2 separate regions of the Homo sapiens genome follow, and region 1 is reported to be linked to region 2. The links are microRNA targets in miRTarBase. Many come from high-throughput screens and were not tested one by one. Region 2 holds a microRNA gene; the other region holds the end of a gene's coding sequence. Distances are between the middles of the regions.

What was found. Region 2 holds the annotated microRNA hsa-miR-3928-3p (GGAGGAACCUUGGAGCUUCGGC, at 7,004-7,025, opposite strand). A microRNA usually pairs through its seed, bases 2 to 8, with sites in the 3' UTR of a target mRNA and lowers its output. Matches are read on the target gene's strand: a 7mer-m8 pairs with bases 2 to 8, a 7mer-A1 pairs with bases 2 to 7 and ends in A, and an 8mer does both.
Region 1: the mRNA of RASD2 is a reported target of hsa-miR-3928-3p. Seed matches in the 3' UTR shown: 8mer at 7,931-7,938 and 8mer at 7,491-7,498.

The regions. Positions count from the first base shown.
Region 1 is chr22:35,549,915-35,560,609 of GRCh38, reverse strand. It overlaps RASD2 (RASD family member 2), which reads right to left. Exons shown (of 3, transcript NM_014310.4): 3 at 6,611-9,107. The coding sequence ends at 8,578. Among named protein-coding and RNA genes, the nearest start is that of RASD2, 14 kb to the right of the region's middle. RefSeq lists an enhancer at 7,341-8,320.
Region 2 is chr22:31,153,059-31,163,753 of GRCh38, forward strand. It overlaps MIR3928 (microRNA 3928), which reads right to left and starts at 7,061; the gene lies at 7,004-7,061. It overlaps RNF185 (ring finger protein 185), which reads left to right and starts at 7,124. Exons shown (of 7, transcript NM_152267.4): 1 at 7,124-7,245. It also overlaps the pseudogene SNRPNP2. RefSeq lists a silencer at 2,885-3,179.

The DNA of each region.
Region 1 (10,695 bases), 4.4 Mb from region 2:
TCTGATTATGTTGCTGCTTAACCACCCCAAATTTAGTAGCATAAAACAACCACTTTATCCTGCTGTCAGATTCTGTGGTCAGGGATTTGGCCCACGCACATCAGGAATGGCTAATCTCTGCTCTGCTCTGTCTAGAGGATGCCCATGGCTGGGGCTGGAGGCTCCTGCACCACCGTGCCTGGCCTTCGGGCTGGATGCAGCTGGGACTGTGTCCTGAGCACCCCCACATGGCCTCTCCTCATGAAATGGGCTTCTCACAGCACAGCAGCTGGGTTCTTAGCAGGAGCATCCTGACAGTGACAGAACACCCTAAGAAAACCAGGCAGAGCTGTGTGACCTTTTCTGACCTGGCCCTAGAAGTCACAGAGCATTACTCCAGTGCACACCATTGGTCAAAGCAATCAGCATCTTGCCCTGATCAAGGGGAGGGGCATAGACTCCACCTCTTGATGGGAGGCACGCCAAAGAATGTAGGGGCTGTGTCTTAAAACCCGATATTGAACATGTGTCAAATGATCCTGATGACCGACGTCTGTACCCCATGTGACAAATCGCCAAGTGCTTTGGTGTCCACCTTGTGTGGTCCTCACTGAGAGTCCAGGATGAAGAAATGGAAGAGTCCATGCTGACCAGGGTGGGGGCCCCAGTGGGAATGCTGCTCACCCCCAGGTGCACCTGCAAGGAGCCTCAGTGACACAGAAATCATTATGGCTGGTGCTTATGATGTGCCAGGCACCATTCTAAATGTTTCACAAGTAATAAGTCATTTAGTTCTCATAACCATCCAGTGAGGTGGTGTGATTATTCCTATTTTACAAATGAGGACGCTGAGTCATGGAGAAGATACGGAGGAGCCACAGCCAGAACTAGGGTGAGGCAAGGGAGGCAATTACCTTAAGCACAATACTTCAGATGCCCCCTCACCCACAAAAACCCCCAGGAATCAAGGTGAATAATATTTTCATGTTTTTTATATATATATATATAATGCTACTGTTAATATTTATATATAATTATAATTTTTATTATATATTGTATTATATTTATATTAATTTATATTATAATTATAATTCTATTTATATATTATTGTAATTATTATTATTATTTATATATTATCATTATAAATTAATGATATTTAGTGCTATCATTAATATAGATAGATAGATAGATAGATAGATAGATAGATACAATTTTTTGAGACAGGGTCTCACTCTGTTGCCCAGGCTGGAGTGCAGTGGCATGACCATAGCTCACTGCAGCCTCAACCTCCTGAGTTCAAGTGATTCCCCCATCTCAGCCTCCCAAGTAGCTGGGACCACAGGCATGTGCCACCACACTTGGCTAAATTTTTGTGATTTTTGCAGAGATGGGGTTTCTCCATGTTGCCTAGGCTGGTCTTGAACCCCTGGCCTCAAGCCATCCTCCTGCCTTGGCCTCCCAAAGTGCTGGGTTTACAGGTGGGAGCCACGGTTCACAGACTTATGTAATATTTTTAAAATAAAAATTAATGCAAAAAATCCATAAGGAACAAAATGTCAAAAATTTAAATAAAGACAAGATCAGTATTGAGGTGATATTCAGCCCAGTCCACTCAAACTGCAATTGACCTAGGGACCTGTAAACCTAAGAAGAAATGCTTGTTGTTGAGAACTACTGAATTTTGGGGTGGTTTGTTACACAGCACTATTGCAGCAATAGCTGACCAATACAAAAAGTCATTTGCCTTTTAGCAGATGAGCAAATGGCAGACGTGAGATTTGAACTCAGGCAGCCTCAGACCAGAGACTACGTTATGAACAAGCCAAATGCTCTGCCTCTCTTACTGAGGGGCGCATTAAGGTGTGCACCCAGGATACCTGGGTTGGTTCAATCCTGAACTCTCTAACTCACTTTCCTGCTCAGGGTTCCTCTTCCTAGATGAGGTAGGGGTCCCTCTGTGAGTGCCATTCCCCAGACCCCTTTATCTGGTGGATGACCCTGGCTTCTTCATTTTGGCTGACACTTTAAGAAGGCTGACCTCAGATTCCAAAGTAAGGTATCAAACCAAGAGCAAAATTTTCAAAGCATTTGGCCAAGAACCAGCTCCTTGACTCTTGTACTTCTCAAGATATACAATAGTCAGCAGGAAGAAGATTTCCTGGGAAAGAGAATCACTGTTGAGCACTACAGTATGCTGTGACAGGGACTGCCCTTAGCTCAAGCCTAGAGAGCTGGACATGTGTCCCTGGGCAGAGTGGCTCTGTGGGCCACTGTCCTCTGCCTGATAAATCTCACATGTGACAGACTGGCTGGGTTAGATGCTAAAGATCCCAGTAAACTCAGAGCAACTTACACTCTTAGAGTTGATTGGGGTAGAGGGTGTGAGTTTCATATGCGCCAGATGTGGGCTGACCACAAGAGGAAGCTGGCATGGGGGTGCCTCAGGCCCTGTCCGATAGAACACCCCAAAGGGGCAAAAAGCCTCTGCACAGAGAATCAAAAGGCGTCAGAAGATTCCTTGGGGCTGCGGAGGGACTAAGCAACCAACCCAGGTTTCTTCTGTCTTCCGGTTCCTTCATCTCTAGGACCTTGTCACCATCTGCCTAGTTGAAGCCACTGCCACATTCAGGTTCAGCCGAAGGGATAGGGGAAGAGAGTGTGGAAGAGGTACACCCGGAAGATAGAGATGCATAGAAGCCTCTGCAGATAACAGGTTCCTAGTGATGGCAGGGAACAATCTCCAAAATAACCCCTGAGATTTTAATGGTATCATTAAACATTGGCCATGCTTGGAACGTGACACCATCTTCCCAAAGTGCCGTAGTAACTAGGCAAGGAAGAACTCCCTGCTCTTCTCCCTCCACCCCCTTCTCAGCCTCTTCTCCCTCCACCCCCAAACCCACCTCCCAAGAATGGAGAAGAGAGGAACCAGAAGTAGCTAAAGAGAGAGAAGGCAAGTGAGAAAAGTGAAGTATCCACCCTTCTCTTCCCAAGTCTCCAGCTTTTTATGTGCAATAGACCACCGCTGGGCGAGGGAGGGAAACTCTTTTGAATGAAGACTGGAAACTGATGATCACACTGGCCAAGGAATTTTAGTTGAGACTCTACTTACTACTTAAAATGTCTGTGGTATATTCTGTTTTCCAAGAGAGATGAGAAAAATCATGGGATAGTCTAAGTTTTCATCTGGGGATGGGGGTTGGATGTGAATAAGTTCTCAGAGCCAATTATTTTTATTTATTTATTTATTTATTTTTGAGACAGAGTTTCGCTGTTGTTGCCCAGGCTGGAGTGCAATGGTGTGATCTCGGCTCACTGCAACCTCCGTCTCCCGGGTTCAAGCTATTCTCCTGCCTCAGCCTCCCGAGTAGTTGGGATTACAGGCATGCGCCACCATGGTTGGTTAATTTTGTATTTTTAGTAGAGACGAGGTTTCTCCATGTTGGTCGGGCTGGGCTCGAACTCCCGACCTCAGGTGATCCGCCCGCCTCAGCCTCCCAAAGTGCTGGGATTACAGGCGTGAGCCACCTCACCCGGCCTGCTCAGAGCCAATTTAAAGCAGCCTTGGGAGCCTAGAGCTGCTTTCTGATTTCATCTGCTAAGTGGAGCTTGTTTGAAGTCAGACTGCCCGTGGTGTCCCGAGGCTGGCCCACTGCATTAGGGTGGCTGTTTGGAGACAACAGGCTGGCCAACCAGATCTCTCCTCCTCCTTTCCACAGTGGAGTCACCGCTGGGCATGGGGCCACCTAGCAAAGGACTGCATCTCTCAGGCCTTCTCATAGGTAGGTACAGTCACATGGCTGGGCTCTTGCCATTGCTAGAAAGTGGAAGTGATGAGTCCATGGCTCTGAAAACAGCAGGTGTACCTCTTCCACACTCTCTTCCCCTATCCCTTCGGCTGAACCTGAATGTTACAGTGGCTTCAACCGTGCAGATGGTGACAAGGTCCTAGAGATGGAAGAACCTGAAGACGGAAGAAACCTGGGTGCCTGAGTGACCAGGTGGAGCAGAGTGACTTTGCCATGAAAAAGAAGTTGGGTTCCTCTCTTGTGACAGCAGCTCAGCCTTTTATTGTGAACGGAAGAGCACCCCATTTTCTGAGTTCCCTGAACCACGTCCAGACACTGCACCCCAACTCACTGGACTCTCCCACTAGAGAGCAACCTCTCAGCTGGCTCAGTTATAAAAGCCCTGGAGACAAAAATGTGCTTTGGAATCAGACATGGTTTCTCATCCAGCTCTGCTCCTTCCTGGCTGTGCAACTTTGGACAAGTGACTTTACCTCTCTGAACTCCATTCTCTCTTATCCAAAAAAGGATTCCAGCTAGCTCTGCCATGAGGATTCAATGACAGGACGCAGGTAAAAGGCTCAGCACAGTGCTTGGCACAGAGTAAGGTCTTCGCAAAGGTCAGCTCCTTTTCCCTTCCCCCATTCCCGGCAGCCTTCACTGCCGAGCCCCTGGCAGGCCTCCCATCAGCCCCCACCAAACCGTGATGCAGACTGAAGTTTTTCTTTCGAGTAAGTGACAGGTTCAGGGAGGTGGAACAGAACAAGTACTTAGAGTTCACAGCGCAGAATTCTTTGAAATCATGTTCCCAATGCTCCCTTCCTAGGGTCGGGGGATTAGCCGGCTATCCTGGGCTTGGCTCTAAATGGTCTCACCATGAAGGGAATTTTCCTACAATCTTATCCTACCCACTGTCCCAGGGCTAAGAAGACATGTGTCTTTCTCCTCTGTGGCAGCCTGTTGCTGTCAACCCCATTCCAGGGCAAGGACTGTGGGATGCAGGGAACAAAGAGTGGGGCTAGAGCTGGGGCTGGGGCGAGCGTGTTCTGTTTGGTGATGATTGGAATGTTGTGAGTTATGCAATAGGAATATTAATTCCTTCTAGTAGAGACCATCAGGGCTGCGAGAGGCTGTTGGTGTGTATCTGGTCCGGATGCCTTCCTCCCGCCTCCCATTTACTCATGAAGAAAAGGAGGCCTGCGAGGGGACGAGACTTATTTCCAGACCCACATAGAGAAAGGGAGTGGCAGCAGCAGGCTGGGCTCCAGCGGGACACCGTGGAGGCCTGTCTCTGTGCACCAGCGCCCTTGTTATGGTTCAGCGCTGATGGCGATGCAGAAGGGAGTGTTCGCCTCCATGCTTTGTGTGTATGAAAACCAGGATCTAGAAAGTGTCCGAGGGACATGCCTCCCACACTGACCTTCTGTGGCTGGGGTGGGCAAAGGATTGGAGGGGAGCTGGGCTGCTAGATTATCAGAAGCTGGGAGACAGGCCCCAGGTAGGCAGAGGTTAGGAGCCGAGCCCCCAGGTAGGCAGGGACTAGAAGCAGGGTCCCCCAGGTAGGCAGAGGCTGAAAGCAGGGCCCCCAGATATGCAGAGGCTGGGAGCGGGCCCCCAGATATGCACAGGCTGGGAGCGGGGCCCCCAGGTAGGTAGAGGCTGGGAGTTCTCCAGCTCCCCACACTATGGACTTGTGTGGTCTCGCCTCCACCACAGCCTGGCTCTGTTTTGTGAATGTCTGTGCAGAGGTTGTGGCTTCCCAATGGACAATGTGGTTCCCAATGAACCTTACACTGCCTGTCTCTCGACCTCCTTTATGGCCTAGCTCCCTGATCCTGCTGGTGGCATTTGCTGATCAAAAGCACAGATGGTTTCCACCTCCCTGATGCAAAATCTTTCTTCAGCCAGACGGAAATCAGACAGCCTCTGGTGTTGAATCTCTGATCTGCCACTTCACCAGCTGTGCCATCTTGGACAAGATATTGAGCTCTCTGAGCCTAAATGCTCAGATGGGGTGAACATGAGTGGGCTTCCCTCGGGGCTGGGTGATAGGATGGCGTGAGACTCGCTGGGTAAAACACACAGGGAGTATTTTACCTCACTGACTTCCTCCTTTCCCTCTGCCCAGGGAAGCCTCTCAGTCCCAGGGGGCACATTCCGTGTTGGTCAGGGCCCAGACCTTCTCCCTCAGCCTCCACTTTCCATCCTCACCCACATCCTGTCTCACTTCACAGGAGTGCTCATGCTGTGGGTTCCGTCCAGAATGTGGTCCAACAAATCCATCACACGCAGGTGGGGGCGTGTCCCAGCCCCTGGGGTGAGTCTAAGTAAGGCTGCCCACGCTTGGCATTTGAGGCCAGATAATTCTCAGTGGGGTGGGGGTGGAGGGGCATCCTGTGCGTTGGAGGATACTGAATGGTGTCCCTGGCCTCCACCCACCAGATGAGAGTAGCAGCCCCAGCCCCAGGCTTGGAAAAGGTTTCCAGAGATTGCCAACTGTCCCCTGCGGGTGAAATTGCTGCTGTACAGGAATCACAAAGAACTCAGACACGGAGATCCTCCTGGAGCTAATGGTCCACGGGGGCCCCTTCTTTGTGGACACAGACACCTCGGTACACACACCCGGAGGACCCAGGAGGGCCAGGCTGAAGGAGGGCATCACCTTCCATCTGGGGGACTTATCCCCCTCTCCCCACACTTACACTTGAAGGTGGACTCAGTGCTGACCCTCAGGGCCAGGGCACACGGCAGGTGCATTTTGGGAGGGAAAGGCCAGCTTTGGTCTGGAAAGGGGCACACCTCCTCTTGGAAATACAAAAAATACACATGGGCAAGGACACGGCTTTGTAACAAACCCACTTTTATTGATAGTGTACACGGAGATCCATGGTGGCGGGGCTGTGCCTGGGTGAGAGCGGGCCACACACCGGTGCAGCCAAGGTACCTGGTCTGCTCAGAAGGCTCAGGCAGTGGGTGGGGAAGGGGACAGAGGCAGGGTTGGAGCTGCTGCTTTGAGCACAGACGCAGGCAGGGGCCAAGGCTGGGGTGCAGGTGCAGGTATGCAGAGCTGGGGCTGGAGCATGTGTACATCTGTGTGTACATCTGTGTGTACTTGTATATACATGGGCATGGTGTACACAATATCTACAGGGACCCTCACAGACTGATCTAGGGAGAGGGTTGAGGACAAGATGTCCCAAAGCCCTGAAGGCCCCAGGGGCCAAGCATCAAGAGAGGGAGCACATCGTGGTATGTACTGAATGCCCAGCGCTAGCTTGCTTCTGCCACCCACAGACTTGCTGTGTGACCTGGAGGAAGTTACTTACCCTCTCTGAACCTCAGAAAGACCCAATAGAAGATCACTAAGGTTCCTTAGGGCCCTAAAACTTCAATATGTTTAGAGAGATTAAAATACAAAATATACTTGTTAAGAGCTGATGACAAGGGCCTTTGGTTTATGGGTTCAAAACCCACCATGCCTGAGTACATGGTGGTACCCAGCATAGCCCAATCCCGGGCACAAGGAGAAGACCCGCCCTGAGCTTTTCTGTCGGATCCCTCCCAGGCTCAGTTCTGGGTCCCAGCTGCTCCTCCCCGCCTCCCCACCGCTGTGTGTGCAGAAGGTGGTGGGGCAGCAGGGGCGGGCAGAGGCCAGGACTGGGGACCCTCTTGGTTTCCTAGGACACAGTGAACCCAGCACCCAGTAGGTGCTTAATAAATGCTTGAGGAACGAGCACAGTAGAGGGCAGCCTGGTTCTAGGTGGAGCTGTACCCTGAATTTGCTAGGGGACAAAGGTGGGGCCTGGTGCTCATCGTGTCCCCTCCGAGTCTCGGTGGTATCCTCTGTGAAATGGGAGCATTAAAAAAAAGCAGTCCTGGCCTGCCCACCCCACGCTTGTGCAATTGTCTGTAAACCGTGGAGCTCAATGGCGGAGGTCAATGTCTAGCTGCAAACAGGCCACGGAAACCCTGTTTGGGAGCAGAGGAGGAAGGCGTCCCGGGTGGAGGCCGTGGATCTGAACTGGGTGAGGGCCTGGCCAAGGAGGGAGTCACTAGGCTTTTACAGTACAATGATTTCCATTTCTACTACTATACATGACACGAAAACAGCTGCAACCACAACAAAGCACAACTGTCGGGCGGAGGGACCTAGGAGAGGAGGCTGAGGAACGCGGTCAGGAGGTGGGCGTGGTCTAAGTGGTGGGCGTGGTCTAGGAGGTGTGGCCACGCCCCCTTCAGACACAGAGTCCACTGGCTCAATGTCAGGCGCAGCTGGGGGCCAACTTGTGTGTGTGCTGGGGGTGGGAGGGGGTGCAGAGGCAGCTGAACCAGAGCGTAAGAGTTGCAGGGCTGGGAGAGAAGTTCTCCCAGCTGCCACCCAAACCAAGCTGGGTGTTATGCCAGGAGAGAGGAGACCTTTCTCATCTGGCCTTCTGTGTCCTTTTCATCCTGAGGCTTGTCCCAGGAGGCTCCATATGACGCAGCAATCCTCACCCCTCTGGCATCAACATTTCTTCCAACCCCAGGAGAGGAAGGTGTAACTTGAGTCTCTGCCTAACTCTTGAGGCTGCAGAGATGTGTCCTCCCACAGAGGAGATGAAACCACCAAGGAGCTGTGGACAAGCGGACTCAGGAAAGCTGTGAGAAGGCAGACGAATGTGCGGAGGCCAGCGCCCGGGGGCCTCCAGTCTGGTGCCTAAGGTCTGTGAACAAGACTGCTGCCGGGGCCTCGGTGGGGAGATGCGCACAGTGGGCATCTGGGGCCACCTCCCTGAAGGCACTGGCCAAGCCCCGCCCCAGCATCCCTCGCTCACTGGATGGTGCACTTGTCCCTCTCACGGGCCTGGCCTTCCCGAAGGACCTTGGCCTTGATGTACTTGAGGTCACTGTTGACGCTGGGGCGGCGGGCGAAGGGCGAGACCATGCCATAGGCGTCCATCTCCTTGACGCGGCGCATGCAGAAGGGCCTGGGGTGGAAGGCGTCACCGTACTGCACGGAGATCTTGCGATGCAGGGCGGGGCTCATCTCGTGTGGCAGCTTGGCCATGCTGAAGAGCACGTAGAACATCTCGTCCACGTTGGTGTTCTTCTTGGCCGACACCTCGAAGTAGGCGCAGTTCTCGTCGCCCGACACCAGCAGCTCGGCCTCGGTGGTGGGCACCTGGCGGCACAGCTCGCCGTGGTCGTTCTTGTTGCCACAGATGACCATGGGCAGCTCCGCCGCCTCCTTGGTCTTGTTCTTCAGGCAGGACTTGACCTCCAGGATCTGCTTCTGAAGGCGCTTGACCTCATCGAAGGACTCCCGGTTATCCAGGCTGAACACCAGGATGAAGACATCCCCTGCAGGGAGAGAGCCCAGGTAGTGAGTTCACCGGCCAGCTGCAACCCCTGCCCTCCTCTGGCCACAGAACATCAGCCCTAAGAGCTGGGAGTCACAGGTGCCCTGAAGCAGTTATGCGGCATAACTGCTTTAACCTACACAGCGACTCTTCGGGGTAGCTGCGATTATTCTCCCTGCGATTATTTTCCAGGACAGGAAACTGAGGCTGAGGGGGTTGAAGCCCCTGTTCACAGTCGCATAGCTAACACGTGGACCACTTGGTTCAAATACAGTTAACTCACTTCACATTTCTTTGCAGGGCTGGAGAGGGGTAGGTCACTTGTGTGGACTGTGTTCAGATAATAATAAAAATCATTTCTATGAGAGCAGGGGTCCTGCCTGTCTTGCTCAATGCCTAGTTTGCATCTGGCCTCATCCGCTTAGCTGCCAGCAGACTTGGGCAGATCACGAAACCTCTGTAACCTCAGTTTCTCTGTCTGTTTCATGAAGATGAAATATTACCTTGCAGGATGATTTTGGGAGTTATGCAAGATAATGAATGGACAGTGGCACATGCTCAGTGACCTCAGGTGTCAGTAATGATGAGAGTGAGGGCCTACTGGGGGCTAAGCACTGGGTGTATGCTCCAGGCCCGTTGTTCTCTTGATTCCTCACTATGCCTCTGTCAAGATTTTGTTACCTTTGCATTACAGGTGAGCAAACTGAGGCTCAGAAAGGGTATGCAGCCTGCCCAAGATCACACAGCTTCCGTGTGGCTAGGCTGAGATTTCTACCTGATTCTGTTCTCACCTAGCTCGTGCCTGGCACCCGGTAGGTGCTCTCTGCTTCTCAAATAAATCATAGGATGAAAAAGTGAGTGCTGGCCTCCAAGGCCCACACTGCCTCCAGGATAACTCACTGCATCACTCAAGGCAGGCTTGTGAATCTGAAACAGGGGCTGCTGTGGAGACGGTGGGGTGGTGGGGAGGCTGTCTGGACTGGTACCTCCATCCTGATTTCCAGCTTTTAATAAGCACCTTCCTCACTTTTGCTTAAACTTTTTTTTTTTTTTTTTTTTTTTTGAGATGGAGTCTTTCTCTGTGGCCCAGGCTGGAGTGCAGTGGTGTGATCTTGGCTCACTGCAACTTCCACCTCCTGGGTTTAAGCGATTCTCCTGCCTCAGCCTCTGGAGCAGCTGGGATTACAGGCGCCTGTCACCATGCCTAGCTATTTTTTATTTATTTATTTATTTATTTTCTGAGACAGAGTTTCACTCTTGTTGCCCAGCCTGGAATGCAATGGCAAGATCTCAGCTCACTGCAACCTCCACCTCCTGGGTTCAAGAGATTCTCCTGCCTCAGCCTCCCGAGTAACTGGGATTACAGGTGCCCATCACCACACCTGGCTAATTTTTTGTATTTTTTAGTAGAGACGGTGTTTCACTGTGTTAGCCAGGCTGGTCTTGAACTCCTGACCTCAAGAGATCTGCCCACCTCGGCCTCCCAAAGAGCTGGGATTACAGGCATGAGCCACTGCGTCCAACCACTTTTGCTCAAACTCTTGATAGCCTTGTGGTGTGACAAGATCCCTGTCTCACAGATGAGGAAA
Region 2 (10,695 bases):
GCTCCTGGGCTCAAGCCATCTTCCCACCTCAGCCTTCTCAGTAGCTGGGACTACAGATGAATGCCACCATGCCCAGCTAAATTTTTTTTTGTAGAGACAGGGTCTTGCTATATTGCCCAGCCTGGTTTTGAACTCTTAGCCTTAAGTAATCCTCCCTTGTCGGCCTCCCAAAATGTTGATATTACAGATGTGAACCGCTGTGCCTGGCCAGCTTCCTGAACTTTTGGCCATGCTTCATCTTTGCTAGGAATATACTAGAATCCTCTGGAAAGGGCCTAATTCCCAAGAATAGAGTCCTGCTGACCTAGCTCTCAGAAGATTCCAGAATATGGCTCAGATACTACCTGGTGGCTATGTATCTAAACAAAAAATACTATCACTACCAGACGTGAATCTGAAAGGTCAGGCTGGTTCACTCTGCCCCTGACCAGCAGGGCCACCATAAGGGCAGAGCCCTGGGCCAGGCCCCAGTAGAAGACTGAATAGACGGACCCTGAGCTGTCCTGGGGCAGGGAACTTGATGGCAGGGGAGCAGCAGGCTTCAACGTGACCCTAGCACCCATACACAGAGAATGAGAGGAGCCTGAGGCCCAGGGGTGGGTGGCCTGTCTGAGGGCACACAGCAAAGATTTGCCTATTTGCCCCAGATCAGGGGACTAATGAGGCCATGCTCCTAACCTGCCCACTCCTCTGTGGAAGAACTGGGATTTAGGAGAATCAGGGAGTGCTTTCTCTGGCTTATTCTCACTTCTGTCTGCAGACACAGTCTTCCTCTCTCAGCCTCCTGTACCCATGAGGAGAGACTAATGTGGGGTAGGGGTAGGGAAATGGCTAGGTCCAGGGAACCTTCTCCCCCATGTCAGGTGAGGAGACTGGAGGAGAAAGTGATGCTACCTCCTTAAGAGCTGGTGCTCCCTGGGATGCTGGAATCCTCTCTCTCTCCTTGCATTGAACAGATCATAAAATTGAGTCCCAGAGAAGAGCAGGGACCTGTGAGTCCTAGAAGATCAAATAGGCCTGGCTGATGCCTATAATTCTAGCACTTTGGGAGGCCAAGGCAGGCGGATTGCCTGAGCTCAGGAGTTTGAGACCACCTGGGTAACATGGTGAAAACCCGTCTCTACTAAAAAGACAAAAAATTAGCCGGGTGTAGTGGTGAGTGCCTGCCTGCTTCCAGCTACTCGGGAGGCCGAGGCATGAAAAATCGCTTGAACCCAGGAGGCAGAGGTTGCAATGAGCCAAGATTGTGCCACCGCACTCCAGCCTGGGTGACAGAGGGAGACTCTGTTAAAAAAAAAAAAAAAAATCAAGTGGGCCAGAAGGTCCCCCAGACTTCTTGCCTCTCCTCACTTGGCAAGTAAACACCTGTGGCCCAGGTCCTTAATCATGCCCTTCTCCCACCTTATAATTTACCCACTCTTTGGTTGTTGTTTTTTGTTTTTTGTTTTTGTTTTTGTTTTGTTTTTTTGAGACAGAATTTCACTCTTGTCGCCCCGGCTGGAGTGCAATGGTGTGATCTCGGCTCACTGCAACCTCCGCCTCCCCAGTTCAAATGATTCTCCTACCTCAACCTCCCAAGTAGCTGGGATTGCAGGCACCCACCACCATGCCCAGCTAATTTTTGTATTTGTAGTAGAGACAGGGTTTCACCATGTTAGCTGAGCTGGTCTCGAACTCCTGACCTCAGGTCATCCGCCCGCCTCAGCCTCCCAAAGTGCTGGGATTACAGGCATGATGAGCTACCGCGCCTGGCCTAATTTACCCACTCTTCAACCTTCCTGGTCCCCCAAACTCATGGCTCCCCCTGAGGTTCTACAGGGGCCTCCTATTTGTGTTGTGTTCCTAATCTCCATCCCTTCCCTCTGCCCTCTGGAGAGGGTCTAAATGCCTCTGCATGGTCTTCCACTCCCACCCACCCCACCCACTACCCCAAGCCCTTCCTTCCTTGCCAGTCTATCACTCCTTCCATCCCTTCACAGACCCTACTCTCTGTGCCAGGGTGGTGAAGCAACATTTCAACAGGAGCAGGTTTTGAGGGCGGATTCCAATTTTGGGCCTGATTCTTACCAGCTGTGTAGTCTTGGGCATGTTGCTTAACTTCTCTGGTCCTCTAGCCTCTCATCTGTAGTAAGACTTCCTTCACAATCCTGGGGTGAGGGTTAAATTGCATAAAGCCCTTAGCACAGTATGCAGCACTTTATAAACATTCAATAAATGTTAGCTACTGCTATTATTATTATTAAAGGAGTAAGGGCAAAGAAGGGGAGGGGGCAGGGGGACTTGGGAGCAAGCAGAGGAAGAAATCAGAAAATTTATATTTTTAAAATTATTTCCCACCGGAATGAATATTTTTTATTCAGCACAATGTTGTAGGCATCAAATAATATTAAATCTATGCTGGGTTCCAGCAGGATAAATGCCAACATCACCAACAGGGCTTCCAGGGATTATAAGTGCCTTAGTGTGCTAAAGCAGAGAAGATATTACTTGATATATTTTTGAAGCTGAAGTGCTTCCAAGTTTGGTAGTTCCAATTCTGCTACTTCTTGGGAACGTTTTTAATAACAAGAACATGAAGAAATAAACAGTGCTGGTTCCCTAATGTTAAAGTTTCAGGAACGTGGTTATTGCTTTCCAGAAAATACCATGAGAATGACCTCATTTCCGACTAAGGAAAAGTTGAACTCTCTCCATTTTTTCCACCTTATGAACCCAACAAAAAGAGCAAAGAGGAATATAATCAGGGAGTTTATCTTAATGAAAGCTGATGGCTTCAATATCTTTTTTCCCACAGTTTAATTGCTTTAGGCATTTATTATTAGCTATGATTAACGCAGAAAGAAGGGACAAAAAGCTCACAAACACTATACAATTTCACAAGATGCATTGCAGGGGGAAAAGTGACTGAGATGGATCAGCAATATCCCAGGGTCTTGGTGGATGCATTCCTGGTGGAAAGGGTCTCATTCCTGGAGGGGGCATGCCTACTGGCGTCCCTCTAGCAAGGGGAAGCCCAATTGGTGGGCCCATGGGTGGTTTCATACCAGGTGGAGGAAACATAATGCCTAGAGGTGGGGCTGCTCTGCCAACAGGTGGGGGTGGAGCCCCCGGTCCTGGTGGGTACTGTGTTGGGGCTCCAGTAATGCTCTTCTCTGTGGAGTCATTACCTGCTGGGATGGTCCCCCAACTCCTGGGACGGGGCCTGCTAATCCACCAGGAGCCTGGGGAATTGGTACACCAGCTGATACTCCTCTACCAGCTGCCCTAACAACTCCAGGGCCTCCTGCAGCTCCAGCAAGTGGTACCCGAGCAATGCCAGTATATTTTGGGGGTAGCCCCTCCACAGTCATGGATACCAAGTTCTCCCCATGCAGCAACACCAGACCCCAAAAGTGCTTTTCTTCGAGCTCTGGTTGCTTCACGTTCTTTGGCTTGATCTTTCTGAACTCATCACAATCGCAGAGGATCAAATTCACATGCTTGTCAAACGCCTTAAAGATGCCAAAGAAGATTGTGCCTTCCTGTAGGATGCATTTCATTCTATAGTCAATGTGCTGCTGCAGCCTTGCTACTCGTGCCCACAGTCGTGATTGCTGCTTCACCAAATCCCGTGTCCACAGTTAAAACTTCGTGCTTCTTAAGACCTGGGGGAAAGCTATAGATAAAGGTATGGTGCAGGTTCTCCCAGAAACAATGCAAGCTGAGGGGGAAACGTGGTGGCTCACGCCTGTAATCCCAACACTTTGGGAGGCTGAGGAGGGCAAATCACCTGAAGTCAGGAGTTCGAGAGCAGCCTGGCCAACATGGTGAAATCCCATCTCTACTAAAAATACAAAAATTAGCTGGGTGGTAGTGGCATGCACCTGTAATCCCAGATACTCAGGAGGCTGAGACAGGAGAATCGCTTGAGCTAGGGAGGCGGAGGTTGAGGTGAGTCAAGATGGCATCACTGTACTCCAATCTGAGTGACAGAGTGAGGTGCTGTCTCAAAAATATATGTATAATTTTTAAAAGTATATTGAAAGCATTGGGTGAGGTGGCTCATGCCTGTAATCCCAACACTTTGGGAGACCAAACTGGGAGGATCCCTTGAGGCCAGGAGTTTGAGACCAGCTTGGGCAACAGCAGGACCCTGTCTCTACAGAAAAATAAAAAATATTAGCTGGGTGTGGTGCGTGCCTGTAGTCACAGTTATTCAGGAGACTGAGGTGGGAGGATCACTTGAGCCCAGGAGTTGAAGCCTGCAGTGAGTTAGGATGGTGTGCCACTGCACTCCAGTCTGGACCACAGGCTGAGACCATGTTTTTTTAAAAAAATAAAAAATAGATAATGGATCGATTGATAGAGAAAGCTCACTCTGTGATGAACCTGTTCCGAGTATCCTCATAACAACTTTTTGAGGAAGGAAGAAATTGGAACACACCTGTGGTTAAACAAGTTGAGTTTATCACTTGTTATGGGGTAAGGGTGAGAGGACATGAATCATGAGAAACAATAGGGCAGCTGGGCTTGGTGGTTCACATCTGTAATCCCAGCACTGTAGAAGCCCAAGGTGGGAGGAACACCTTAGGTCAGGAGTTCGAGACCAGCCTGGCCAACATGGTGAAACCCTGTCCCTACTAAAAATACAAAAATTAGCCGGGAGTGATGGTGGGCGCCTGTAATCCCAGCTACTTGGGAGGCTGAGGCAGAAGAATCACTTGAACCCAGGAGGCAGAGGCTGCAGTGAGCCGAGATCACACCACTGCACTCCAGCCTGAGTGATAGAGTGATACTCTGTCTCAAAAACAAACAAACAAACAAACAAACAAACAAAGGGGCATCTCAGTAACAAAGTGTTACAAAGGACACATAGGATTTGGGCTTGCATTAGGTGATTTGGACGAGGGCTTAAGAAAATGGGGTTTTCTGGATTGGATGCTGCCTATGAGTGAGTACCTTGATAAACATTATTTAGAAGGAGGGAAGAGTAGACCGAGGCTAAATCTATAATCTCTATACAAGCCAGAATAGGGAAATGTTTGGCCATTTTTGTAGTTCGAACAATGCTCATGTTTTGTCTGGGTTTAGACATGATTCAAGTGGTTTTGTTATTGTCTTGATCCATCATGGTCACATAGTGGCTTTGTTTGATGTTGATGTTCTGTGAAGTTTTTATGTTCAATAAGAGAACACACCAAGGTCTATTTGTGAGTGCCAGACCATCTCCTGGATGTCAGGGGCTGTTTTTCTCTTAGCGCTTGGTTTCAAATCCAGGTTTGTGTGACTGGAAACATCCCTTGTATTACTTCTTGATCACAGGAACTTGCAAAGGTGGCTGGCAGACTAGGACTTTCATCTATGAGCTTATTTCATCTACTATTTTTTATTTTTTTTTCTGAGATGGAGTTTCACTCTTGTCGCCCAGGCTGGAGTGCAATGGCACGATCTTGGCTCACTATAACCTCTGTCTCCTGGGTTCAGGCAATTCTCCAGCCTCAGCCTCCCAAGTAGCCGGGATTACAGGTGCCCGCCACCACGCCTGGCTAATTTTTGTATTTTTAGTAGAGATGAGTTTCACCATGTTGGCCAGGCTGGTCTCGAACTCCTAACCTCAGGTGATCTGCCTGCCTCGACCTCCCAAAGTGCTGGTATTATAGGCGTGAGCCACCGCGCCGGCCTTTATCTACTATGTTCACCTCCTACTCAGGTCCGATCCCTAACCGTTCCTGGGATAACTGTAGGTACTTAATAAATGCTTGTTGAATGAATGAAGATGGCTGTCAAGAACTCCAATGACTGCTTGAGTGCAAATCACAAGCTCCATCACCTATCAGTATGTGATTTGATACAATATGTATTAACAGCTAATCCACAATCCATATTCAAATTTCATTACTTGTCCCAATATTGTCCATTACAACTATTCCACCACCACCACTACCCCAGTCCAGGGTCCTATTTAGAATCACACACCACATTTTGTTGTCATGCTTCTTTAGTCTCCTTTAAACTGGAACAGTTCCTCAGCTTTTCTCTGTTTTTCATGACAATGAGTTATTTTGTAGACAGTGTCCTTCATTTGGGGTTCTCTAGCACTTCCTCATGAGATGTGTACGGTGCACTTTTGACAGAAATACCACAGATGTGTTCTCAGTGCATTTTATTAGGAGGCCCTTGATCTGACCCATTAACTAGTGGTGTTAACTTTGATCACTTTGATCTGTTTGTTCTGCTAGGTTAAACCTCTGTAACATCACCATTTTCCCTTTGTAATCAATAGCTAATTTATGGGAGACACTTTTGCTGTTGTAAACATCCCGTTTCTCTAGTTTTACCACACATTATTGATTTCCTAATTCCACCATGTTTATTAGCTAGCATTCTACTAAAAGGAAGACTTTCCCTTCACCCATTAATATGCTCACTTCTTTATGTTTGTAAAGACTCATGGATTACTATTTTATTCAATTAGTTATACTCTATTACTATCACTCCATATTTTGATTCTGAAATTGCCCTGACTTGGCCAGTAAGATCTCCTTAAAGACAGCTCCTGTGTTCTTTGACACATTCCCATGATTCTTATTACCATCATCCTTATATTCTGGTGTAACAAGATGTTCCAAGTTTATCTGGTACTTTCCGGAATGAGTTAGTTCTTTCTCTCTCTCTTTTTTTTTTTTTTTTTTGACGGAGTCTCACTCTGACGCCCAGGCTAGAGTGCAGTGGTGCGATCTCAGCTCACTGCAACCTCCGCCTCCCGGGTTCAAGCGATTATCCTGCCTCAGCCTCCCGAGTAGCTGGGATTACAGGTGTGCGCCACCACGACCGGCTACTTTTTGTATTTTGAGTACAGAGGGGTTTCACCATTTTGGCCAGGCTGGTCTCGAACTCCTGACCTCAAGTGATCCATCCGCCGCGGCCTCCCAAACTGCTGGAATTACAGGTGGGAGCCACCGCGCCCGGCCGGAATCAGTTTTTTTCTTTTAGGAGCCCCGAACCCAAAGCTCTTTGAAAAGCTGCCGAAGCTCCAAGGTTCCTCCGCTTCCTGCCCGCAGGCGGAACCTTAGAGCTTCAGCCATGGAAATTAACCTCTTCCGGTTGGGGCCGGAAGTCCCTCCGAGAGGGGCGGCTCCGCGTCATGTGACTGGAGTCCGCGTAGGAGGGGTCGGAGGTCTTACCCAACAGATTGACGCGGCGTTAGTATTGGCCGTGTACCCGAAAAACTGATTGACTGGGCTGGCGTTAACTGTGCGGAGGCAGGTATGTGAGGGGCTGGGGTTGGGGCGGGGGCGCCAAAGTTTAGGGACGGGGGCGGGAGACCCGGGTCCGCCTTCCCAGGACACACGGGCTTGAACATCTGAGCCCAGGGGCCCAGAGACAGCAAGACCGGTCGTGTCTGTCCCCGAAAAGAGGACGAGCTGGCGTTGTGGTTCTGCGTCCCATGAATACAGATTGGGGAAACTGAGGCCTTGCGAAAGAGAAGGGCTCCCACAAGCTCTCCTTTCGAGGCATGGGCACTGATTCCCATTCTATCCCCCGTGCGAGACCGCCTCTATCATCTGGGAGTGCATTTCACGAGTTTGCCCTGAGTGGAGAAGCAGAGGCCGGGGAGCGCGGTGAACAGAGTTGGGCTGAAAGTAAGAGACCTGGATTCGAGACTTCGCCACCGACAGACAATTGTGCGTTCTGGGCCAAATCTCTTCCCTGTGCTGGGCCTCAGTTTTCTCGTCTCTAAAACGGGGCAGTGTTTTTCAAAATATGGTTCTTACACCATCTGCTTTGTAATTCTCTGAGATGCCGGCTTTACAGCGCGGGACTCAATTCAGACTTCTGGTTTAGAATCTGAACTTATGCGTAGGGGGGTCCTGTATATACTAATGTTTGAAGCTCATTGATTTTAAGTGCTTTCCTGCTGTGAGCACTAGATATCCATTCTTCGCTTTGAGGCAGCTGGTGCCAGTTCAGGAACTTTGAAAGAACTGGAATGGTTAGCTCAGTAAAGAGAGCACTGGAAGGGAATTAACTTTTTAAAAATTGAAAATACTGTTACGGCAAAGAGGGCTTCCACTTCATCTTTAGGCTAAAAGAGGCAGAACTAGGACTAACAGGTGAATTCTACAGGAAGGCAAGATTTTTGCTTAATAGAAGAACTTAAATGGAAGAATCGTCAGAGGTGACCACCGATGGAGTGAATGGATTGCCTCCGTGCCTCCTTTCGAGGGAGGTATATAGGTATTAGATGAAGGTCCTTTCCAACTTGAAAGTCTGTGATTCCAAGGAGTTGTTCTGCATCTTTCTGGTGCTGACTCTGCTCTCAAGGCAAATGTGACTTTTTTCTTCTCTTTTGACACTTCCATCACTTTAGCCTACATCTCCTGTAAATAAGGCCAATGCATCTGACCTTACATAATCTCTTCCTGGTTGTCCTGTGCACCATCCTTCTTTTCAAGGACTTTGGAATGACCCAATATCTGATAGAGGCACCTTAAATGTTTATTGAATGAATAAGTAAACTGGGTCCCACCCCATGGGTTAGTAGCTTTTTTCTAAGAACAAGTTGGAAATGCCTCTGAAGATTTTATGTTTGACCAGGAGAAGCCAGTGAACTCTGAATCACAAAATTGAGGACTCTCAGTTGAAAGCACCCCTTGAGGTTGTTCAGACCAGCCTTCTCTTCCCTGGAACATAATCCCTGCTTGAATCCTCTCTTCAGCAATATGTGTATAGATGTGAGAGAATTTTTGCAGTCTGTTGGCTAGCTTTCCATGCATCATATAAAAACAGTCCTCTTATAGACTTGACTTGCCAGTTCACACACATGACAAGTTCCAGCTTTTTTTTTTTTTTTTTTGAGTATTTAGTAGAGATGGGGTTTCACCATGTTGGCCAGGCTGGTCTCGAACTCCTGACCTCAAGTGATCCGCCTGCCTCAGCCTCCCAAAGTGCTGGGATTTCAGGTGTAAGCCACTGTGCCTGGCCTCTAGCATACCTTTGGTTTTCTAATCAAACATTATTATGTCCTTATTTTGTGCATTACAAAGCTCTGCCTAAATCACTTTTTCAACACCTGCTAGAATGCTTAGGAATGTTTATGTTGTCTTAGGGAGCAGAGGCTCCATATTATGACCCAGTTCTGCTGACTTGCTCCCCCGCCGCCACAAAAGTTAGGGTTGAGCCAAAACTTCCTGCCAGTTATCGACTTGTGTTTCCCAAGATTAAAAAATAAAAAAGTTGTGAAATGCTTATTCAGATGTTATCCAGGTACTGGGTAAAATGATCTTAATTTGTTGGAGTTTTTAGAACTTCTCGATCTAAAAGTTTCCTTTTAAAGAAGTGTCTGAATTGACATTCTCATAAGTATGTTCTTCAGGCCACTGGTCTGAAGAAGTGGCTCTGAAAAAAGGATTTGATGCTAATAATAAGTTTGAGAAAGCCACATACCATTATTCTTTCTTGGAGCTTCTCAATGTGTAATACCACATTAAAACCACTGAGAGGTCCTGCAATAAGGAAATGTGCCTTATAAGCCAAGATAATAACTTGTTCCATTTGTTTAATCTACTTGATGTCAAATCTTTTTTTTTTTTTTAATTGAAGCACACGTTAGCAAATTCTGACCTAGAGTGGGGATCTGCATACTATATATAGGCTGTGAACCAAACCTGGACCTACTGCTTGTTTATATGGTCTGTGAGCTAAGGGTGCTTTTTACATTTTTCTTTCTTTTTTTTTTTTTTTTAAGACGGAGTCTCGCTCTGTTGCCCAGGCTGGAATGCAGTGGCTCCATCTCAGCTCACTGCAAGCTCCGCCTCCTGGGTTCATGCCATTCTCCTGCCTCAGCCTCCCGAATAGCTGGGACTACAGGCGCCCACCCCGATGACTGGCTAATTTTTTGTATTTTTAGTAGAGGTAGGGTTTCACTGTGTTAGCCAGGATGGTCTTGATCTCCTGACCTCGTGATCTGCCCGCCTCAGCCTCCCAAGGTGCTGGGATTACAGGCGTGAGCCACCACGTCTGGCCTGCTTTTTACATTTTTAAATGATGGGAAATAAAAGAAGAATAATATTACATAGGTGACAATTACAGGAAGATAAAATTTCAGTGTTCATTTCAGTCACACCCATTTATTTATATTCATATATATTTACATATTGTCTTTGGGTGCTTTAATGCTACTCAGTGGAGTTGATTACTTCCCATAAAAACCATATGGTCCACAGAGTCTGAAGTATTTACTCTATGGCCCTTTATGGAAAAAAAATTGCCAATTCCTGACCTGCATCGTGTACATTTTTTTTTTTTGAGACAGTGACTCGCTCTGTTGCCCAGGCTGGAGTGCAGTGGCACGAACATAGCCTACTACAGCCTTGACCTCCTGGGCTGAAGCCATCTTCCCACCTCAGCCACCCGAGTAGTTGGGACTACGGGCACACACCACCACACCCAGCTAACTTTTAGGTTTCTTGTAGAGATGAGGTCTCACTATGTTGCCCAGGCTGGTCTCAAATCTCCGAGCTCAAATGATTCTCCTGCCTCAGCCTCTCAAAGTGCTAGGATTACAGGTATGAGCCACCACTCCCAGCCATGTATTGTTTTTTAACTTTTTATTTTATTTTATTTATTTATTTATTTATTTATTTATTTATTTGAAACGGAGTCTCACTCTGTCCTCCAGGCTGGAGTGCAGTGGCGCAATCTCGGCTCACTGTA